Regions from separate parts of the Homo sapiens genome. Here all the other regions are linked to region 1. Evidence: fine-mapped expression QTL. A gene starts in region 1. Each other region holds a variant in brackets. All regions are shown on one strand. Distances are between the middles of the regions.

Region 1 (6,995 bases):
ACTGCTCCAGGCAGCCTTTGGGCAACAAGGACACCACTTACTTATTACAAAATATCCTTTATTGATAAAATAGCTCAGAGTTTAAAAAAAAAAAAAACACCACCTGCATGTCGCAATAAGAGGTCACAGGCAAGAACACTGGGGGTCCCATGGGGCGCACACAAGACCGGCCAGCAGAGGGTCACAGTCAGTCCCTCTCCTGGCCCAGCTCCCCACCACATCCCAGGGCGATACTCTGGCCTCAACAACCCACTGAGGACCAAGCTGGGAAGCCTCCCACACCCCAGGAAGGACTCTTTTTGGTCCCCTCCATTCTCTCTACACCCAGAAAACTCCCTCGGTGCCCTTCCAAATCTAGCAGGTCCATCTGGCCCATTCCCCCGACACCTGCCAAGCTAAGATGCCTACTGGCCCAATGTTGAAGCCAGGCCCTCTCCAAGGGAAGGCCGATAAACCTCCTTTCCACACTTCCAACTGTTCTGGGTGCCAGGTTTTGGGGTGGGACTGAGAACCAGGAAGCAGGGGTCCTCAATGCACAGCCCCATCAGCATTGCGGGGAGCAGCGTGGCTGGGTCCGAGGCAGTCCACAAGCACCCACCTGGGGGGATCAGTTGTGGTTCACAAGGACTCATTTGGGGCTTGGAGACCTGGCCGGGCACTCCAGTGGGAGGCTCCCCTAGGGGCGCACCAGGCTCTGATGCCAGTACCCCACCTGGGGGCGCTGCCACCTGTCACAGGCTCTCATCTTAGACTGTTGCCGAGGTGTGGATATTTTGAGCTGTCTTGGGGAGACAATTTGCCTCCTTGATGACAAAAGACTTATCCCCCACTGGGGAGACCCAAGCCACTAAAAACCCTCTTGGTGTTGCCGGTGAAATGTCGAAACGTTGTCATGTAGCGTAATAACTCAGACCTTTGCAGCCAGAAGAACACATTCTCAAAGAGATCCTTTAACTTGAAATAGTGATTCTGTCTGCCACTCCCGGCTTCCAGTTCGGGGTAGGAATTCACACACCCCAGGGACAGAACAAAAGTCTACAGGAAGACAGGTGGTGGTAAACACAGAGGAAAGGGATTTTTATATCACCATATAATCACATTTTTGGTTCTCTAGTGTGTTCCCCCACAGAGCTCAAAGCTTTCTGCAAAGCCTTTCATCTCCCTGCAGCAAGTAGGCAGTGAGCTATTGTCGCCCCGATTTTTGCAGGGGGTGAATGCCAGTGATCGGGGATCTCCCGTCGAGGCAGAGACCAGGCCTCCAAGACCGCCCCAGCGAGGCATCCACGTGGCCACCCACCTACCGGAGGGGTGCTGGGTAAGGAAGCCGATCCATTGTTCTGGCTTTCAAAGGAACCACAGATCCGAAAACAGGCAAAGGGGGAAAGGAGGGCCCAGAGACGATGCCACCCCATAAGCCCCCATCCCAGCGCCTGCCAGGGACCGCGAGTGCCTAGCGTGGGTGATCAGTCTTCGTTTCTTCCTCCCCCTCAGCAGCAGGCCCCACTGGGAAAAGTGGAAGGCTGGCTCCGTGCTCTTTGTGGGTGGGGGGGAGATGAAAAAGAAACGAAAACACCACAAGCAAGTGACCTGCCAGGAACACAAGGTCCTCAAGAAAGGGAAGCCCAGACATTGGTCTGGAGAGCATGGGGCTCTGGGAAGAAAGTGCTCTCTCTTCTCCTGGTCTTGGCTATGTTCCAGAGGATTTGAACCACCTCCATCGGCCTGTGCTCAGGGAGAGGGTGGAGAAGGGGTCCCCCACAGCTAAGCCGGCAAGGGGAAGCTTCACTGGGACCCTTGCTAGCAGCCCCCCTGCCCACCCCTCCCAAGGGGTTCCTAAGATGAGGCCTACAGGATCTGGGCAGGGAGCAGAAAGCCCAGGGGAGGCAGCCACACACAGCAGGGCAAGAAGCAGGGTGACCCCGGCGCCACCGCACCAACCCCACAGGGGCAGCGCAGGCGGGCTCACCAGGCCGTCTGGGTCCACGGGCGGCACAGGATCCTCCGGAAGGCACGGCGGAAGTCCTGGTTGAAGATGGTGTAGATAACAGGGTTCAGTGAGCTGTTGCAGTAGCCGATCCAGAAGAAGAACTGGAAGAGGCCATGGGGCACCTTGCAGTGCTTCGGGCAGATGGCTCCCAGGCTGTAGCTGAAGAAGAAGGGGAACCAGCAGAGCACAAAAACGCCAATGACCACAGCCAGCACGAAGGTGAAGCGCTTCTCCCGGGTCAGCTGCGCCCGTCGACGCCACCACTGCCCACCTATAGCACCCACGCCCCTGCCCAGGAGCACCTGGCCACGTAGGGTGGCCAGCACCCGGGAGCCCTGTGGCTGCTGCAGCGGGGGGCTGCAAGCTGAGGCCGGAGACACTGGCACTGCCTGGGGTTCACACTCTTCCTCCTCCTCCTCCTCCTCTTCCTCCTCTTCAGCTTCATCCTCTGGAGATGCCCCACAAACACCCTCCTTCTGGCCCTGGCCTGAGTTGGGAAGGGCAGCCCAACTGGGTGGCAAGGCCCGGGTCCCAGTATCTTCAGGGGTCTCCCCCTCCTCCTTCTCCCCAGTGGACTTCGAGTGTCCGTTGACCTCTCTGGCAGAAGCCACAGAGGCCAGGGCTGGCAGTTTGGCTGAGGCCAAAGCCCCACCATGGTCGGGTCGGGGCTGCTTGGACTCACCCTGCCCAGGCCCCCCCTTGGCCCTGGGACCTCTGCGGTTGCTGCGTTTGGCGATCAGGTAGATGCGCAGGTAGACAAGGATCATGATGAGGCAAGGAGCAAAGAAAGATCCGATGCTGGAGGCCAGGATGTACCAGGCCTCCTGGTTGAGCTTGCACTGGGGGCGCCCGCGCGGCTGGGGGCCCTGGTCGCCCTTGTAGATGAGGGGCGGCAGCGAGATGACGGCGGCGATGAGCCACACAGTGAGGATGATGCACTTGATGCGGCGCGGGGTGCGCTTGGAGTTGTACTCCAGCGCGCGGCTCACGGCCCAGTAGCGGTCCAGGCTGATGGCGCACAGGTGCACGATGGACGAGGTGCAGAAGAGCACGTCGAGCGCCAGGTACACCTCGCACCACGTGCGCCGGAAGTACCAGTAGCCCAGCAGCTCGTTGGCCAGCGAGAAAGGGATGATGAGCGTGGCCACCAGGATGTCGGCGGCGGCCAGCGACACCAGGAACAGGTTCTGAGGGGCGCGCAGCGAGCGGCTGGTCAACACAGCCAGGATGACCAGAGCGTTGCCGAAGATGGTAAAGAGAATGAGGAAGGTGATGGCCGCCGCTATGGCCGCTGTGGCCTGCACGGAGTAGGGGTCCTGGTGGTCCATGACGGGGCGGGAGGTGGGCAGAGGGAGCGCTGCCCGCCCAGTGCGCACCGTGGACGACAGCGCTGCCCGGCTCGGCTAGACAAGAGCGTCGCCCCTCGGGCGGCGCCGAGGGCGCTGGAGCCCCATGGCCTGGACGAGCGGGGCCTAGGAGGTCGGGAACACCCAGGACCAGCAGCCGCCCTCCTACATCCTCCTCCACCGGTGCCCGGGGTCCCTGCCGTCCGCCCCAGAGAAGTTTCCCAAGTTGTCCCGCCGCCGTCCCCGTCCCGCCCGGGACCGGAGAAAGTCGCGCCCTCCCGCCACGCGGATGCCGTACGCTCTGGGGGCGCGGGCCGGGCTGGGCCGGTTCTTAAAGGAGGCGCGGAGGACCTTGCGCCCGCTCAGCTCGCAGGCTTTCGCCCCAGCCGCGCCTGCAGGGGAGTGGGGAGCGGGGAGAGCGGCTGGAGGAAGGCGGAGACTGGAGGCGGGCGCGGGAGCGGGCGGGAGGCGGGGCGGTGGGCGGACCGAGGTGGGCTGAAGGTGCGCTTCGCGGGAGGCGTGAGCCCGGGACTTCCCGCGCCCGGACCCCGCCCAGCGCCTCTACCTGCCTTCCTCCCGGCGGCCGCGCCTCGGGAGAGCGGAGGGGCCCGGCGGCCGGGGTCTCCGGCCCCCAGGCAGGACGCGCGCAGCTGTGGAGGGGTCGGTGGGTGCCGGGAGCCGGGACGCGGAGCTAGCGCGCGGGCCGGCACCGGGACGGGACACTTCTCCCGGGGGAACCGGGCTGGGCCCGGCGCCGGTGCGCCCTGCTCTGCCTTCCGCCGCTCGGGAGCCCGCAGGGAGGGCAGGGCGGGCGTGGGGCTGGGGCGCCGGGTCGCAATACACCACAACCCCGCCCGGCTCGGCCGTGGAGACGCCCTGCGGAGAGGTGGGGGAGCGGGGAGCGGGGAGCCGGTCCCGACCCTTTCCCAGGCGCTGCCCCTCGCGGACCAGCTCCGTCGGGCCAGCGCCGCGCGAGGAGGGCGCGTCCCGGCCTGCGAGCGCCCCCTGCTGCCGCCCGCGGGCCCAGCCCGTCAGCGGCAGCCCGGGTCCCGGAGCCAGCGCTCGCAGCCTGGGTCTTAGGACTTCGGCTTCTTGTGTCTCCGCAGCTGCCTCAGTTTCCTCCATTAAGGGCAAAGGAGGTAACAGGGAAACTGGCTTGGACTCGAATCACAGCATCAACTGCGATTCAGCCAAGGGTTTGTACGGGGCACAGGGCGAGCTGCCGCCCCTTGACTAATGCGAAGGGGAGGTCCCTTCCTTGCCGTGGGGGAGTAAAGGGTGGGGACTTTGTCACACAGCTCCGAGAAAAAGCAGGTCTCAGGGGCAGCCGTGAAGAGAGGAGCGTCCCTCCGCTTCTGTAGTGACCCCGGGGGAAGGGGTTGACCCTCCCTCCCTGCTGCGGTCCTGCCCCACATACACACTGAAGCCCTTCTGGGGGTGACAGTGGAAAGAGGGTTGGGGTAAAAAGAAACTTCAGACTAAGGCCCCCCACTCGCCTTCAAAGCGCTATGAGCAACTGTTCTCCCTCAGGGCCCCAACTCACTCTCCCTGCCACACCGCCACCAGCACCAGCCTGGGCAGCCCTGAGGGCATGTTTCCCCGGTTCTGGAGCCCCTAATGTCATAAGCCCCGCCTCGAGCCAGGCCTCTTATTCACAGCCCACGACTCTGCAAGGCATCCTCTGTATAAATAAGCACCAATCCACCTCTGACAGTGGGGCTCCCCCAGGCCCCGTCCAACCTGCTGGACCTCCTCTCCTCCCTGCTCCCTCCATGGGAGCAGAGCACGTGGCCTCTCAGTGCCCACGGACAATGTCTAGCGCCTCCCCAGGCTCAGGTGGGAGGTGCCCCGTCTCAGGTACCCAGACCAGCACCCCCAGCCACGGGGGTGTGTTGGGAGTAGGTGCCTCCTTGATCCCCCCATCCCTGTCATTCTGCCAGACTCCCCAGCTTCTGGTGAGGTGCAAGTGCCCACAGCCCATGGGGTGGATGCTGCCAGGGCTGGGTTCGGACAGGGCAATCAGCCTCCTTCCCACCCCCAACCCTAGGCTTCAGCTCAAAACCGACCACTCTGCTAGACACAGTTTCCTGGATGTGTCTTTCCCACCCTCTGGGCTGGGCAGGGCCTGGGCGCCGCCTGGGCATACATAACCAGTGATGGAGAGATGCCAGTAGCTCTTTCCCTGAGGAAGGACAGAGGGTGGCCATGAGAGCCTGGGAGCAGCTACTTAGGCAGGTGCCTGCCTATCCAGGGGCTCCCAAGGCCTTCACAGTCTGGGCCTGCTAGAGGCCCACATGGGCATCGGGAGGAACCGCCTTTCCACTGTCTCCAACCACACTTGGGCTGGGGGCCAGTGAGCAGCTCCCCAGACTCTGCAGCCAGCATCAGCCTTTGTCTTCTGACCCATCTTCCTTCAAGGGATGCTGCAGGAGCTGAGACTGGGTTGCCCGTGTGCCCTCCCCACCCTGCAAGTCCCCACTGAGGACGCTTACCTGGGCCTTCCTAGAAGTGACAACTTTGGGTCTACTGAGTGCCAAGCCTTGCTAGGCATCTTTCATTGGGCCAGCTAGGCACTAGGCCAGGTGGGGACAGCCAGGGACAGAGTCTACAGCTGGCAGACCTGGGAGATGTGTGCCCTCCGGGCAGCAGGAGCTGCCTTGGCATCCATACCGCTGCCCCAGGCTGTCACCGTCTACTGCAGCTGTCTCCTCCTGGCTCCACCCCAGGATGGACAAGTGCAGCGTGGGTGCGCCAGCTCTCCACGGCCACGCAGGCCATAACATAACTCAGCTCCTGCTCCTCTCGGCGGCTCACCATCTCCCCCCGCACACACACACCTTCAGGCCTTGCCTGCTCCAACCAGCCCCATGAGGCTGCCAGGTGCAGGAATTGGAGCCTACTAGCATAGCAAGGCTTCCTTCAGCTCTTCCCAAACTAGACCTGACCTTCCACTGTCATCCTGTTCCACAGGAACGGGCATAGTTCAGTCCCAGACCAGCAACAGCCAGCAGCAGGAGCAGCCGGAGCTTTCCCAGACACATAGCAGGGGAGTGGGCAGCAGGGCACAACCTGGATCCCAGCCCTCCATCCCTGCCCCGCCAGGCCAGTGTTGGATTCTGAATGTGCCCTGGGTCTCCACTCTCTAGACCTTCCCTGGGGCTGTTTGCTCTGATAGAGATGCCCTATCACCCTTCCTTCTGTGTTTGGTGGGCTCCTACTCACATTTCAAGGCCCACTCACCAGTCACCAGGCTCTCAGGCAGAGGGAGGACCTCCATTCTCCAGGTTCCTCGACGCCAGGCGGCACCACTTTCACACTCAGCACACTGTACTAAGATGCTCTCTGATGGGTTTGTTGCATCACCTCTGCCCATCAGAGTGGACATCCCTTCTCTGTCCCCAGTACCTGGCACAAGGTCATTGGCCGTGAGGGACAGTGGCAGCAGGCAACAGTGCACTCATACACATGAGCATTCTAAGACAGATAGCCCAAATGAGGGTGCCCTGGAGGGATGTCCTTGGGAAGAGGGGCCATGGGGAAAGGACCTAGCCATGGAAGCGATCCACCTTTTCCAAAGAAGGGCAAGACTGTTGTCCCATTGCTGGCTGTGAGACCTTAGTTGGAAGCCATGGAGACACTTCTCCAGGCCTGAGAGGTGAGAT
Region 2 (6,995 bases), 110 kb after region 1:
TTTTTACACTTATATCAATGATACATATTGAGCTAATTTTTATATATGATATCAGGTAAGGATAGGGGTTCATTTTTTCCCCATATAGATATCACGTTGCTGTAACATAATTTGTTGAAAAGATTATCTTTTTCTCCCCATTCTAAAGGCCTTTGCACTGTGTTGAAACCCAGTTCACCATATATGTGTGGGCCTACTTCTAGACTCTGTTTCATTGATCTATATGTCCTTATGCCAGTTTCACCCTATCTTGATTAGTGTAGCTAATAAAGTAATTAGTGTAGCTATAAAGTAAGTACTGAAATCAATTAAATATAAGTCCTCCAACCTGGTTTTTTGTTTTGCAACGTTTTTTGCCTGTTCTGAGTCCCTTGTGTTCCCATATACATTTTAGAGTCACCTTGTCAATTTCTACCCCAAAAAAATGCCTGATCAGATTTTGATTGGGACTGCATTGAATCTTTAATTTGGGGAGAATTGATGTCTTAGCAATATGGAGTCTTCCCAATTCATGAACATAGCATATCTCTTATTTATTTATTCCTCCATTTAACTTTCTCAGCCATTTTTTTAGCTTTAGTGTATAGGTCTTGCATGATTTTGTTTAATTTATCCTTAAGTGTTTTTCTGATTTTTGGTCCCGTTGCAAGTGGTATTTTAAATTTTTCAATTTCCAATACTTCAATACTAGTATATAGAAATATAAAAGGTTTTTTTTGTTTGTTTGTTTGTTTGTTTTTTGAGACAGAGTTTTGCCCAGGCTGGAGTGCAACGGAGGAGATTTCAGCTCACCTCAACCTCCACCTCTCGGATTCAAGCGATTTTCCTCCCTCAGACTCCTGAGTAGCTGGGATTACAGGCATGTGCCACCACACCCGGCTAGTTTTGTATTTTTCAGTAGAGACAGAGTTTCTCCATGTTGGTCAGGCTGGTCTCGAACTCCTGACCTCAGGTGATCCGCCCGCCTTGGCCTCCCACAGTGCTGGGATTATAGGTGTGAGCCACTGTGCCCAGCTGAAATATAATAGTTTTTATGTTGACTTTGTATTCCACAATCTTTATTTCTTTTATTTATTTATTTATTTATTTATTTATGTATTTATTTATTTATTTTGAGACAGGGTCTCACTCTGTCACCCAGACTGGAGTGCAATGGCACGATCTCAGCTCACCGCAAACTCTGCCTCCCAGGCTCAAGCGATTCTCCTGCCTCAGCCTCCTGAGTAGCTGGGATTACAGGCATGTGCCACCATGCCCGGCTAATTTTTGTATTTTTGGTAGAGACAGGGTTTCACCATATGGGCCATGCTGGTCTCGAACTCCTGACCTCAAATGATCCACCTGCCTCAGCCTCTCAATGTGCTGGGATTACAGGTGTGAGCTACTGCGCCCAGCTGTCCCACAATCTTTCTATTAGTTCTAATAGCTTATTTTGATAAATTCCTTAGAGTTTTTTATATACACAATTATGTTTTCTGCAAATAAAGACAATTTTCCTTCTTCCTTTCCAGTCTGTATGTATGAGTCCATTTTCTGTTGCTTATAACAGAATACCTGAAGTTGGGTGATTTATAGAGAAAAAGAAGGTGATGGTGACACTAAAAGCTTAGACTTCACCACTATGCAGTATATTCATGTGACTCAACTGCACTTGTATCCCTTATATTTATACACATTTTTAAAGGGAAAAAAAGAAAAAAGATTTGTTTCTTATAGTTATGGAGTTCTCAGAAGTCCAAGGTTGAGGGGGCATATCTGGTGAGAGCCTTCTTGTTGATGGGGACTCTACCGAGTCCTGAGGTGGCCACAGGGTGTCCCATGGCAAGGGGGCTGAACGTACTAATGTGCTATGCTCACGTCTCTCTTCCTCTTATAAAGTCACTAGTTTCACTCTGATGATAACCCATTAATTCATTAACCCTTTAATATACTGATCTATGAATTAATCTATTCATGGGGGTAGAACCCTCTTGATCCAATCACCCTCAAAGGCCCCACCTCTCAACACTGCCACATTGGGGATCAAGTTTCAACATGAGTTTTGGAGAGGACATTCAAGCCATAGCACTGTACTTGTTTCTTTTTCTTGCTTTATTTCACTGACTAGAACCTTCAATACAATGTTGGATAGAAGTAGTGAGAGTAGACACCCTTCACTTGTTCCCAGTTTTAATGACAAAGCATTCAAACTTTTACCCTTTTCCAATCATGTTTCTCTAATGTAGAGCTACAACTCTGACCATCTCTCCTTCTAGGTAAAATGAGCAACCACATGCACCAATCAAAGTTTTGCCCACTCGGAAGATTTCCTTTGACCACTGTTCTCAGGACCACCTTGAGTGGGGTTATAACAATATGTGATGCAGAAACATCTGTAACAAGGAACCAGACTTGAATTTTTTTTTTTTTTCCTTAGGCAGGGTCTCACTGTCGCCCAGGCTGAAGTGCAGTGGCACGATCACCACTGCACTTCAGCCTCAACCTCCTAGGCCCCAGTGGTCCTCCTGCTTCAGCCTCCCAAGTAGCTGGGATCACAGGTGCATGCCACTGCACCCGGCTATTATTATTATTATTATTATTATTATTATTTTGTATAGGTGGGATCTTACCATGTTGCTCAGGCTGTTCTCGAACTACTGGGCTCAAGCAGTCCTTCCGGCTGGGCCTCCCAAAGTGCTGAGATTATAAAATGTAAGCCACCGTGCCCAGCCAGACTTGAATTTTTTTTTTTAATTTTTACCTCCTTGGTCAACTGGTGATAGGTGATTTCCCATGAGGCCATAGATGTGGGTTGAGAGAGAATAGGCAATGTAGCAGGAGTAGTTACTCAGAGAACTTGCTTCTGCATTTAGGACCTGCTCAGACCCAATCTCATTTATACCATTTCCATTTCATAATGACTCCATCATTAAGTAGATGGAGTGCAACTTTCTGGCTTGATGAGTCATATAATACCCAATTTAATTTATCATTAATAAATAATGATATTTAGGCTTAGCTCAGGACACTTGATAATTTGGTGGCCCACAGCCAAGGGCTTTAGTGTCCACTAGGGCCAAGTGACATGCTCGAAGCTGTATCTCAAAAGGAGAATAGTTACCTGCAGAAGATAGTATTGTGTTTCTTCTGATTTCATCTTGAGGCCTCTTTCTGGAGAGTGGCTGTAAACTCTAGCCCTGTCCTGACTCCAGGGCCCCAGGAGAGCTGGCCATGGATGTTTGCAGTGCGCCATTGACAGGATACTTCATTATCTGGCAGATGGCCTAATTCCTAAGTGTCAGACCCATGACCAGGTGTCCGTCTCACAGGAAACTTGTTGATACTGGCAGACACCTGTGTGGCTCTTGTCTGACTTGTGTCCAGTTTATTCCTACCAAGATAGCCACTCTGTAGGAGAACCCTCTATGGAATGAGAGTTGGGTTCAGGTATGATGGTCAGGTGAGTTGCAGAGGAGGCAACACAGCAAAACACATGAAGTAACAGAAGCAGTGTATTGCTTACAGAGCTCTTACAGAGAAGAGGGCAGCACGCCTCTCAGGGCCAGTGGGGAGAGAGCTGGCCAGGACACACGTGCTTAGCTGGGGAGCAGGGAATGAGAGAGAAAGCAAGGGGCCTGAGGGCTAATGTCTGTATTGGGTCCAGGCCATTACCCAAGCAGGTTTCCTGAGAGGAGTTTTTGTTTTTTTTGTTTGTTTGTTTGTTTTTGG[T/TG]GGGGGGGGGGTTGGTTTTTGGTTTTGTTTTTTTTGTTGTTGTTTTTTTTTTGAGACAGAGTCTCACCCTGTCACCTAGGCTGGAAGGCAGTGGTGCAATCTTGGCTCACTGCAACCTCCGCCTTGCAGGGTCAAGTGATTCTCATGCCTCTGCCTCCCGAGTAGCTGGGATTACAGGTGCCCACCACCACACCTGGCTAATTTGTGTATTTTTAGTAGAGACATGGTTTTGCCATGTTCCCCAGGCTGGTCTCAAACTCCTGACCTCAGGTGATCCTCCTGCCTCGGCCTCCCAAAGTGCTGGGATTACAGGCATGAGCTGCCATGCCCAGCGGGTTTTTGGTTTTTTGAAATGGTCTCATTCTGTTGCCCAGGCTGGAGTGCACTGGCGCTATCACAGCTCACTGCACCCTCTACCTCTCAGGCTCAAGCAGTCCTCCCACCTCAGCCTCCTAAATATCTGGGATCACAGGAGTGCGCCACCATGCCTAGCTAATTTTTAAATTATTTTTGGTAGAGACAAGGTCTCGCTATGTTGCCCAGGCTGTCTCAAACTCCTTGTCTCAAGCAGTCCTCCCACCTTGGCCACTCACAGTGTTGGGATTACAGGCGTGAGCCACTGCATCCGATAGGAGTTCTAACTGGTAAGTTTAGAGCAAGCAGGCACAAGTATCATGGGGTCATGCTGTGACTCAGAGGTGGTCACTGCAGCATGTCTGGGCAGTCCATGTGGGGCGAGGGGGTTGGAGCAAGTCACATATGTAGTATCTAGGTGTCCACAGGGAAGTGGTCATCAGGAGGTGGTTGTATAAGGCAGGTATCTAGATTGATCACACTGAGGAGCTAGGAGGAGGTGGAGAACTGGACAATGTGTCAAGGGTGACTGAGTCCTGCTTTTTATATGAGAAAGGCTAACCTGTATTTAAAACAGATGCTGAGACAACATACAATTATAAAAATTTCGCCAGGTGCAATGGCTCATGCCTGTAATCCCCACCCTTTGGGAGGCCAAAGCTGGAGGATCACTTAAGCCCAGAAGTGTGAAACCAGTCTGGGCAACATAGCAAGACATTGTCTCTACAAAAAAAAAAATTTTTTAAGTTAGCCAGGCATGGAGGCACACGCCTGTAGTCCCAGCTACGTGGGAGGCTGAGGTGGGAGAATGGCTTGAGCCCAGGAGATCGAGGGTGCAGAGAGCCATGCTTGCACCACTGCAGTCCAGCCTGGTGAGACAAAGTGAGACCCTATCTCAGAAAAAGAAAAGAAAATATCCTGAGTTGCAAATGCCCTGAATACACCTAACCTACAGGACATCATAGCTTAGCCTAGCCTACCTCAAACATGCCCAGAACACTTACATTGGCCTACAGTTGGGCAAAGTGATCCGTCCATACAGCCCACTGTAGAATATTGGTCATCCAGCCTAGTGATCCTGTGGCTGGCAGAGCTGCACTCACTGCTGCTGCCCAGCATCACGAGAGAGCATCGCACCACATATCACTCACCTAGGGAAAGATCAAAATCCAGCATTCGAAATACAGCTTCTACTGAATGCACATCGCTTTCGCATCATTGCTGAAGTAAAAAAAATTAAGTTGAACCTTCATAAGTCAGGAACTGTCATGACAATGTCATCTTTTCTTCTGGGCCCCACTCAAAACTGATAGCCTTTTAAGTTATTCAGAAAATGGGTCAGAGAAGAACATTGAAATGAGGTATACATTGCCTTCAAAATCCAAAACCACTGGGCATTGTGCCTCTTAGTGGTAGTAGGGCCCAGCTTAACATGCCCCAGACCGTTAGGCCCCCCAGAAGGTTCACTGAATGTTTGTGGGATTTATTTCCCACCCTCTGGCATACATATATCTCGTCAAGGTGGCTAGAATAGTTACTACTTCTAATCAGCATATTATCAACACATTAGATGAATGTGATGTCCTGTGGAGTAGAGAAGAGGACAAGGTCTCCACAAACTAGATGATGACAGATGACTGCGAATTGATACAGTCCTGAGTTTGGATAACGAATAGGTATTGCTAGCCCTGTCAGCTCAAAGCAAACTGCTTTTGATGGTCTTTACTAAAAATTGCTGAGGAAAAAAGCATTCATCAGATCAATAGCTGCATACTTTGCTCCAAGGGATGCATTGATTTGCTTCATGAATGAAGGCACACCTAGAATAGCAGCTGCAATTGGAGTCACAACCTAATTGAGTTTATAATAATCCACGCCATTCTCTTGGATCCATCTTGGATCTGCACAGGCTAGAGAGCTAAGCTGAATGGAAATCATCAGCTCTGTGTCTTTCAGATCATTGATTAGTGGTGGAACTAATTTCTGCAATCTCTCCAGGAATGCAGTGCTGCTTTTGGCTCACTGCTTTTATAGGTAGAGGCTAACATTTATATGGTTTGTCTTTTTTTTTTTTTTTTTGAATAGAGTTTCGCTCTTTTTGCCCAGGCTAGAGTGCAATGGCACTATCTCAGCTCACTGCAACCTCTGCCTCCCGGGTTCAAGCAATTCTCCTGCCTCAGCCTCCCAAGTAGCTAGGATTTCAGGCATGTACCACCATGCCCAGCTAATTTTGTATTTTTAGTAGAGATGGGGTTTCTCCATGTTGGTCAGGCTGGTCTCGAACTCCGACCTCAGGTGATCCACCTGCCTCAGCCTTCCAAAGTGCTGGGATTACAGGCGTGAGCCACCTCGCCCGGCCTCCATTTTTTTTCAATTCAGCATAATTTGTATTGTCTCTGAAACTCAGCTTCCTCATCTGTGAAATACAGATAATGATGCCAGCCTTACTTGTGTTCAGAGGTTGTTGTAAGACTCAAATAAGATTGTGTAAGCTAAAATACATTACAAACTGTAGAACCCTCTACAGGGTATAAGGAATAAGCGCTAGAATTATTATTACCTCCTTCCATCCCCTCTTATATAGAAAATTTAGATTATAGTCCCCTTGTTACTATTTCAATCTATGTTTTTTGTTGTTGTTTTTGTTGCAAGTACTTGGAATCCACTCAAAGTAGTTTAAGCATAAATATGGAATCGAATTTGAAAGATCCAGGAGTGTCTCAAGAAGCTCAGAATTCACAGGCAGGAAAGGCACTTGCGCATCATAAGGTGGTAGAAAAAGGAACTGAAAAGGCATTGGGAGCTGTGGCCATGAGAGTGCACTGCTCACATCTCTGAATGCAGGGGAGCGTAACATGGCCCCCTGCTGCTGGGCTATGAAATTCTGCCACTGCATTTGCACTGAGACCACCCTTCTTGTGAGCTGCTCCCAC
Region 3 (6,995 bases), 44 kb before region 1:
GTCCTGGGCAGCTTCCGCAGGGACTTGGCCTCTGCTTCCTCCACTGCAGCTGGGGGGTTGGACTGGATCTAGTCCATTCGAACCTCCCCAAGGATGGGCAGGGGGCACACCCCTCCCACTGTGCCTGTCCTAGCAGATGACCCGGACCCGGAATGTGGGAGCACCAGGGGTTTGCTCTGGGCCAAACACCCCTGGACACCCCTGCCCCTCTGCCCCCACCCCCTCTTTACTTCTTCTTTCCCTCCCAATACCACAAGTCCCCACACCATGGCAGAGACAGGAGCCTGTGTGGCCAGCAAGCCCAGCGAAGGGGGCTCAGGTGTCATCTCCACCCCCAGCAGAGGAGGGAGAACACCCCCAGCCAGCTTTGCAGCTCCCCCATTTCTCCCTCTCCCGCTGCTGCTACTGGTTCAAAAGATAAAATAAAAACCCTCTGCATCAACAAATAAAATAAAATCACAATAAAAAATTTATATTCCTGGGATGTAGGTCTTTCCAAACAGGAGCAGCTGCTGCCAGAGCTGAGTCTGTCAGAAGCAGGGCGGGGCTTTTTTTCTTACTAGGAGTTTCTTTTTTGTTCTTTTTTTCCCAAGGAGGCACGTCCAGTTAAAATACATTCCTGGAATGGGAGCTCCATGCGCTTTCCTGGTCATCAAAGCTGCCGTTTGTTAGCATGTTCTTTGCCTGTTATCTTGTTTGTTTGTGAGGATTGCTGGAGTTTCTTTTTTGAGATAGAGTTTTAGGCTGTTGCCCAGGCCAGAGTGCAGTGGCGCGATCTCACCTCACTGCAACCTCCACCTCCAAGGTTCAGGCAATTCTGCTGACTCAGCCTCCCAAGCAGCTGGGATTACAGGCGTCTGCCACCACACCCAGCTAATTTTTTGTTTTTAGTAGAGATGGGGTTGGATTGTTGGAGTTCCTGAGTGACAGGATGTTGCAGCAGAGGTGGTGAGTGGGGGAGAGGGGGGTATCCACGAAGTCAGGGGAGCTGCCTAGCAACTGGAAGCCAAAGGGGTCAACCCACCAGCCCCTCTGGAGACAGCTGTCTGCAGCTCAGACGTCGTTGAATACGGCAGCCACTCATTCGGCTAAATGTGGGGATGCATTAAAGACATTTGCAGACATCCTTTCTTCTATTGCACCTTTTCTCAGGAAACTTTTAGAAGCATTCTGTCAAAACTACAGACTAGAACATGAGTCACCCCCTGCACGATGCCCAGTCCTGTCACTGGGCAGTTTCCTGAAAGCTGCGATCATCCCCCATCTGAGTTCCAGATGCAGTGCCAAGGCTGGGCTGGGGGCATAGGGAGGAGCTGGCCCAGTGAACGGAGCACAAACCAAGACAGCCCAGTGAGGGTTCCCCAGCGAGAGACAGAGCAAAGGGGTGCATTCAACATTCGGGTTCCCAAGACCCCTCCACACAGGCTGTACCCAGTGTTGGCATGTGGTAAGGGGCCTGTTGTGCAGGTTGGCCACTGCTCAACTGAAAAAAAGTGGCAGCTGCCAGAGGCTGGCCTTGAACCAGGGAAGCTACCCACTCTTTAGCCAGCACTCTGCACTCTATTATGTTGCCATTACGGAATGAAAGTGGAGCCCGGATATTGCCCCAGACCTCGACCCTGAGAGTTCAGTGCTACTGGCTGCCCAGAGCCCCTCTCTGTCTGTCTCTCCTTGGCCTGTAGGAGAGTGTGGCCACAGGTAGTATCCAAAGCCTTTCCTTAGGGCCTTCTCCTGACCTATCCTGCTTCCCGGGCTCAGGGGACATCTCCCGGAGTTCCAACCACACGACTGAAGATCCAGCGAGCCTCATGGAAGGGGTTGTGTGTTGTCTTTCTCACGTCCCTTTCTTCTCTCTGTCCCTCTGCCCCTGCCCTTGCCTGGGAGAGCTCCAGAGTCACCCTCCTCCATCACAGAGCAATTTGAGCTCCAGGCCAACAACCCTAAGATGGGCAAACCCAGCCCATCTTTGGCTCAGCCAAATCCTCCAGTTCCCAGCCACCCACCCACTTGCAAACACACTTATGTCTTCACCCCACAGGTGACCTGTGCCATACTCCTAGGGGTGTTCAAACTCCTGCCCCGTGCCACTCTATGCAGAGGGGCCGGCTTCCATCCATGGGACTAAAACGGATGAATCCTTATGCTTTCGAGGCACAGATCAACCAGGAGAGACACAGCTGGGACAGGAATAAAGGGGCGTATGGCGCTCTGGCCTTCCTGAATCATGAGCCTGGAGCTCCACCTGGCAGTGGCATGGGCTTACATGGACTTCTAGGGGAATGAGGGAGCAATTCAAACTCCTCTCCTGAGCAAGAGGAAACAGGGCTCAGGAGGAAGATCCTGAGTGTCTGTCCAAGTCCCTCAGCCAGGCCTGAATCACTGCTTTCTCCCCATGGACAAGTGAGCTGTGGAAACAGACCCAACCACGCCAGGGTGCGAGGGCACCGGGATCTGGCAATGGCTGTTCCTCAGGTCACACCCCTTTCTGGGTCCCAGGGTGACATCCATCCAGGGATGAGGCGAAATGGACTCTATGGGGAATGTAGAGCCAGTCACCACTCCCTGGCCACCCTAGCCTGGCTGTCTGGAGGGCTATTTGAAGAATTCTGATACGGCCTTGGCTCAGTAGGAACAAACACAGCATGACGGGCACAGACGTGGTCAGATGTGGCCAAGGATTTGTCAGACCAGCCTAGATGCCTGTGAGATCCCGGCCTGGCATATGTTCATTGCTTCTCTGATCAGACAGCAAGTGCCACAAATGTGGCCACACACCATCCGAGGCCGCTCTGAGAGACCAGACTAGCTCTGGCGGCTCCAGAGGTCTGCTCTTGGGTCTTTTTTCCTGTGAGCCCCATTCCCGGAGGAGCAGCTGCAGCTCAGGGGAGGGGGTGATGCTCCCTCAGGGAACAGCGCCATGACTCTACGACAGTCAGTACTGGCAGCTGTCAGAGCTGTCATTCCCTGAGTGCAACTCTTAATGAACGCCCATTAAGCCTCCTCTTATGACTGCATAATTGTTGCCACAAGGAGGCTTTGTTCTCTTTATTTTGGAAATGAAACAGTTTTATATCCCTAAAGCAAGAGAGATGCACACCAGCTTGGGGCTCGCACTGGAGAACACAGAACAGCAGGGCAGGGGCTCCACTGGGTTGGGGCTCTGGTGTCCCCAGGCTACTGCAGACACAGCCCTGAGCCCAGGGAGCAGCAGCTGTTGTTTCTGCAGCAGAGCGGAGCAGCCGGGTCAGCTCCAGCCCTCCTGTGAGCTGTGGGAAGTTGCCACAGGCCCACCAGCCCTCCTCACTTCTCCTGTAGCTCCCAGGAACTGTCATCATGAACCATCTGCACCCTCACCATCCCTTAGGGGCTGGGCAGTGCTGGGGCTATTATTCTCCTTGACCTTGAGAAAACAGAGGACGCCGGGTGGCCTGGCCAGGGTCCCTCGGATGTAAGAGGAGGATTAACAGGAAGAAGTTGAGCATGTCCTATGTCCCAGGCATATGTGGTCTAAGTCTTCACATACACGACCTCACCTGCTCACTACCACAGGCTGCAGAGGAGGAGCTGAGCTCCCATGTTAAGGTGAGGCTCGGAGGCATTAGGTGAAGTGTCCAGTTCCCCAGCTCTTATGTGACCAGCTGGGCGTTCAGC[G/C]GAGATATTTCTACCTCTCTAGCTTCCCATCCTCAAGAATGTGGCTGGGCCAGACCTGGACTCTGAGGACATTCAGGGACACTGTGCCTCACCAGCCCTCTGAAGCGCTCAGAACGCGTGTCCTGACCCAGCTGCATGCCAGGAACCGTGCATTGGGAAGTGGGTGGACAGGAGAGACAAGACATGCTCCTTCCCCCAGAGGAGGCTGCAGGCAGCAAGCGAAACCCTTAGGTAAGATCGGAACAGCCGTCCACCACTGGGAGCATGAGCTGCATCCTGCCTTGGGGGGCCGCTTTGGTGGGAGTGTGCTGGGCAGAGAAGAAGGGAAGGACATCCAGGCAGAGGGGGCTCCTGGGCAAAGGCTCGAAGGTGCAGAGGTGAGAGGCATTTGGGAGCTGGTGAAGGCATTGGGGGTGGCCTCCTATTGGGGAGGAATGAAAGGGAAGGGCTCCTCTGGCAGGGGCCCCGTACTTTCCCGTGGGGACTTGAGTGGGGCTGGCTCTGCACCCCCACCCCTGCCCAGGGAGGGCTCCACTGTCCTGGGCTGACCAGAGAAGCAGTGGGTTCTGTCAGGAAGGGGAGGCTTCTTTAGCCCCGTTCATGAGGCAGCTGGGGGAGGAGGAGGAATGCAGTGGCATCCCACAGAGTGGCCCCGGGCCACTGACCTGCCCTCTCTGCCCCATTTCCTCACCTGTGACACAGAGACCCACACACCCAAGCCTCTAATCTGCTTCTAAGAACATTGTGAGAGCCAGTGATGATCAGAGGACTGCTTATTGTAAAGCAAAAGCTCCAGAAGGCTGTAAGTGAACAGGCCTGGGACATGAGAGCTAAAGGGCCCTGGGCTATCTGAGTGTCCAGCCTTCATTTAACAGCAGAAGAAACAGACCCAAGGAAGTCAGAGAATGTGGCCAAGATGAGCCGATGAGTTCGGGCAAAGACAGAACCCTGCCTTCTCTCCTGCACCATGCTAGCTCCAGACTGGCAACCCTTTCTCACCTCTGCCTGCTTCATCCCAAAACATTTCTCCTCAGCCTGGGTGCTGAATGGGATCACACCATTAGAATGGTTTCTTGGACATGGTTACTACGCATGCCTTTCTTGGGGAGACTTTAACAGGGAATCAGTCACTCACACTTTAGTATGAATTAGTTTTATCAGCAGTTATTTAGCATTAGTAGCATGAGGATTTTAAAGAAAAGAGCAGAGAGAGGAATACCTGTGGACCTAGGAAGGACAAGCTTGAATGGGCCCAAGACAGCTGCTACAGTATAAAGAGGAGATCTGGTTTCCAGTCCAGTTTCTAGAATGTATTCACTCTGAGCCCCAGAGCCCATCTCTATAAAATGGCAGCCATCAAGTACTTGAATCAGAAGTCCCTTCCAGGATGACATTCTGGTTTTCTCCACCGTAGGAGAGGGTCCCCAGAAGCGGACCAGGCTCAGGACAGGAAGGCCAGGCCTCTGGGCTCTTCATCTCATGGGCCAAGCCCTGTCACAGATCTCCACAAAGCCAAGGCTCCAGCAGGAGTCAGTCACAGAGGAAAACGCTGCCTCCTCGGCAATGCAGGAGGTGGGCTGAGCCCCAGCCAACCCCATCTTCAGCTCTCAGCAGCCTCTGCCAAGCAGGAGGCCCTGACTCTCCCGTGACAAACATAAATATTTGTTCCATCTGTGAGTCCTGACTTGGCTACAGAGCTCTGTCGTGTCCATTCTCTTTCTTTGGTAACAGTACTTTACTAAAGTGCAGGCTAATTAACATATAGTGAAGTACACAAATCCTAAGCTATAGCTTGATACATTTCTACAAATGCATACACCTGTAACCATCACTTGCATCCAGATAATCAAAGGAACTTGCAACGGTGTAATTGTATTGATCTCTCTCTGCCTGTTGCACTAGTGTTATTATATATTTTACTTCCACATGCTTATTATTTTGCTTTAAATGGCCAAAAGTGTTTTTTAAAGTAAAAAACAAAAGATAATCTCTTATATTTTCCACATATTTACAATTCCTGGTCCTTTCTATTTCTTTTGGGTAGTCTGGGCTTCCATCTGAGATTCTCTCCCTTTGGCCTCAGAAATTCCTTTAGTACTATTTATAGTGTTGCAATGAATTCCTTAAGCTTTCGTTTGTCTAAAAATGCCTTAATTTGGCCTTTATTTTTGAATGACATTTTTATTGGATATAGACTTCTAAGCTCACAGAATTTTTCCTTGAGACCCTTTAAAGTGGTTCTTCAATTGTCTTCTAGCTGCCTTTGTTTCTAGTGAGAAATCAGCTACAATTCTTATTGTGTTTCCCCTAAATGTAACCTGATTGTATTTTCTGGATGATTTTAAGATCTTTTTGCCTTTGTTTTCTAGCTTGATGATGATATCTCTAGGTATAGCCTTTCTTGTATTTATGTAGTTTAGGGTTATTTTTATTCTTGAATCTGTGGGTTGACGTCTTTCATGAGTTTTATGAAGATGTGTTCAGTCATTCTCTCTTCAAATATTTAGTCAAGCTCCATTCTCATTCTCCTCTCCTTCTGGGACTCCAGTTATACATACAACATGCCATTTAATATATTGTTTGATAGCTTTTGATGCTCTATTACAAGGGTTGCCAAACTTTTCTAAAGGGCAAGACTTAATATAGGCTTTGCAGGCCATATGGTCTCTGTCACAACTACTCAGCTTTTCTGTAAACAATGTCTGGTATGTCTGGGATCCATAAAACTTTATTTACAATAGCAGGCAGCAGGTCAAATTTGGTCCATGGGCCCACAGTTTGCTGACCCTTCCTCTGCTCTGTTGTTGTTAGTTTCTTTCCGTGCTTCCACTTGGAGAACTTAGTTTGACCTGCCTTTGAGTTATTGATCCTTTCTTCTGCTTGTATCCAATCTGTTGTCAACCCTATGAAGTGAATACTTCATTTTAGATTCTGTATTTTTCAGATCTAGAGTTTACATTTGCTTGTTGTTAATAGACATTATTGTTTATTTCTTTGTTAATAGATTTTATTTTTCAGAGCTGTTTTAGGTTCACAGCAAAATTGAGCAGAAAGTACAGAGAGTTTCCTTATACCCTATGTCCCACACATACACAACCTCCCCTACTATCAACATTGCCCACCTGAGTGGTACTTTTCTTACAATTAAGTCCCATTCACATCATTATCAACCAAAGTCAATATTTAACATTAAGATTCACTCTTGGTGGCGTGCTTTCTATGGGTTTTGACAGAGGTATAATGACATGTAGCCACCATTATAGTATCACACAGAGTAATTTCACTGCCCTAAAAATCCAGGATGCTCCATCTGTTCATCTCTCCCTCCCTCCTAACCTCTGTCA

Which allele goes with the higher level. Positions count from the first base shown, and alleles are read on the strand shown. Sizes are in standard deviations (SD) of each study's normalised expression. Not every link is listed here.
With allele C in place of G in region 3, the expression in aorta of the gene that starts at base 3,737 in region 1 is lower (large effect, 0.87 SD a copy in GTEx).

The links.
Region 2: its variant is fine-mapped to the expression of ADRA2B in subcutaneous fat (TwinsUK, PIP 0.95).
Region 3: its variant is fine-mapped to the expression of ADRA2B in aorta (GTEx, PIP above 0.99). The same link has a PIP of 0.9 or more in cerebellar hemisphere and lung.

Annotation. Positions count from the first base shown.
Region 1 is chr2:96,112,835-96,119,829 of GRCh38, forward strand. It overlaps ADRA2B (adrenoceptor alpha 2B), which reads right to left and starts at 3,737. Exons shown (of 1, transcript NM_000682.7): 1 at 42-3,737. The coding sequence starts at 3,315. The coding sequence ends at 1,963. RefSeq lists silencers at 3,637-3,726, 3,827-3,986, 3,997-4,456, 4,497-4,566.
Region 2 is chr2:96,227,122-96,234,116 of GRCh38, forward strand. The region is part of intron 1 of STARD7-AS1 (STARD7 antisense RNA 1); the gene reads left to right. Among named protein-coding and RNA genes, the nearest start is that of SNORA112, 16 kb to the left of the region's middle. RefSeq lists enhancers at 6,901-6,970, 6,981-6,995. The variant T/TG (reference allele first, on the strand shown) is at 3,709.
Region 3 is chr2:96,069,186-96,076,180 of GRCh38, forward strand. No RefSeq gene overlaps it. Among named protein-coding and RNA genes, the nearest start is that of GPAT2, 38 kb to the left of the region's middle. The variant G/C (reference allele first, on the strand shown) is at 3,652.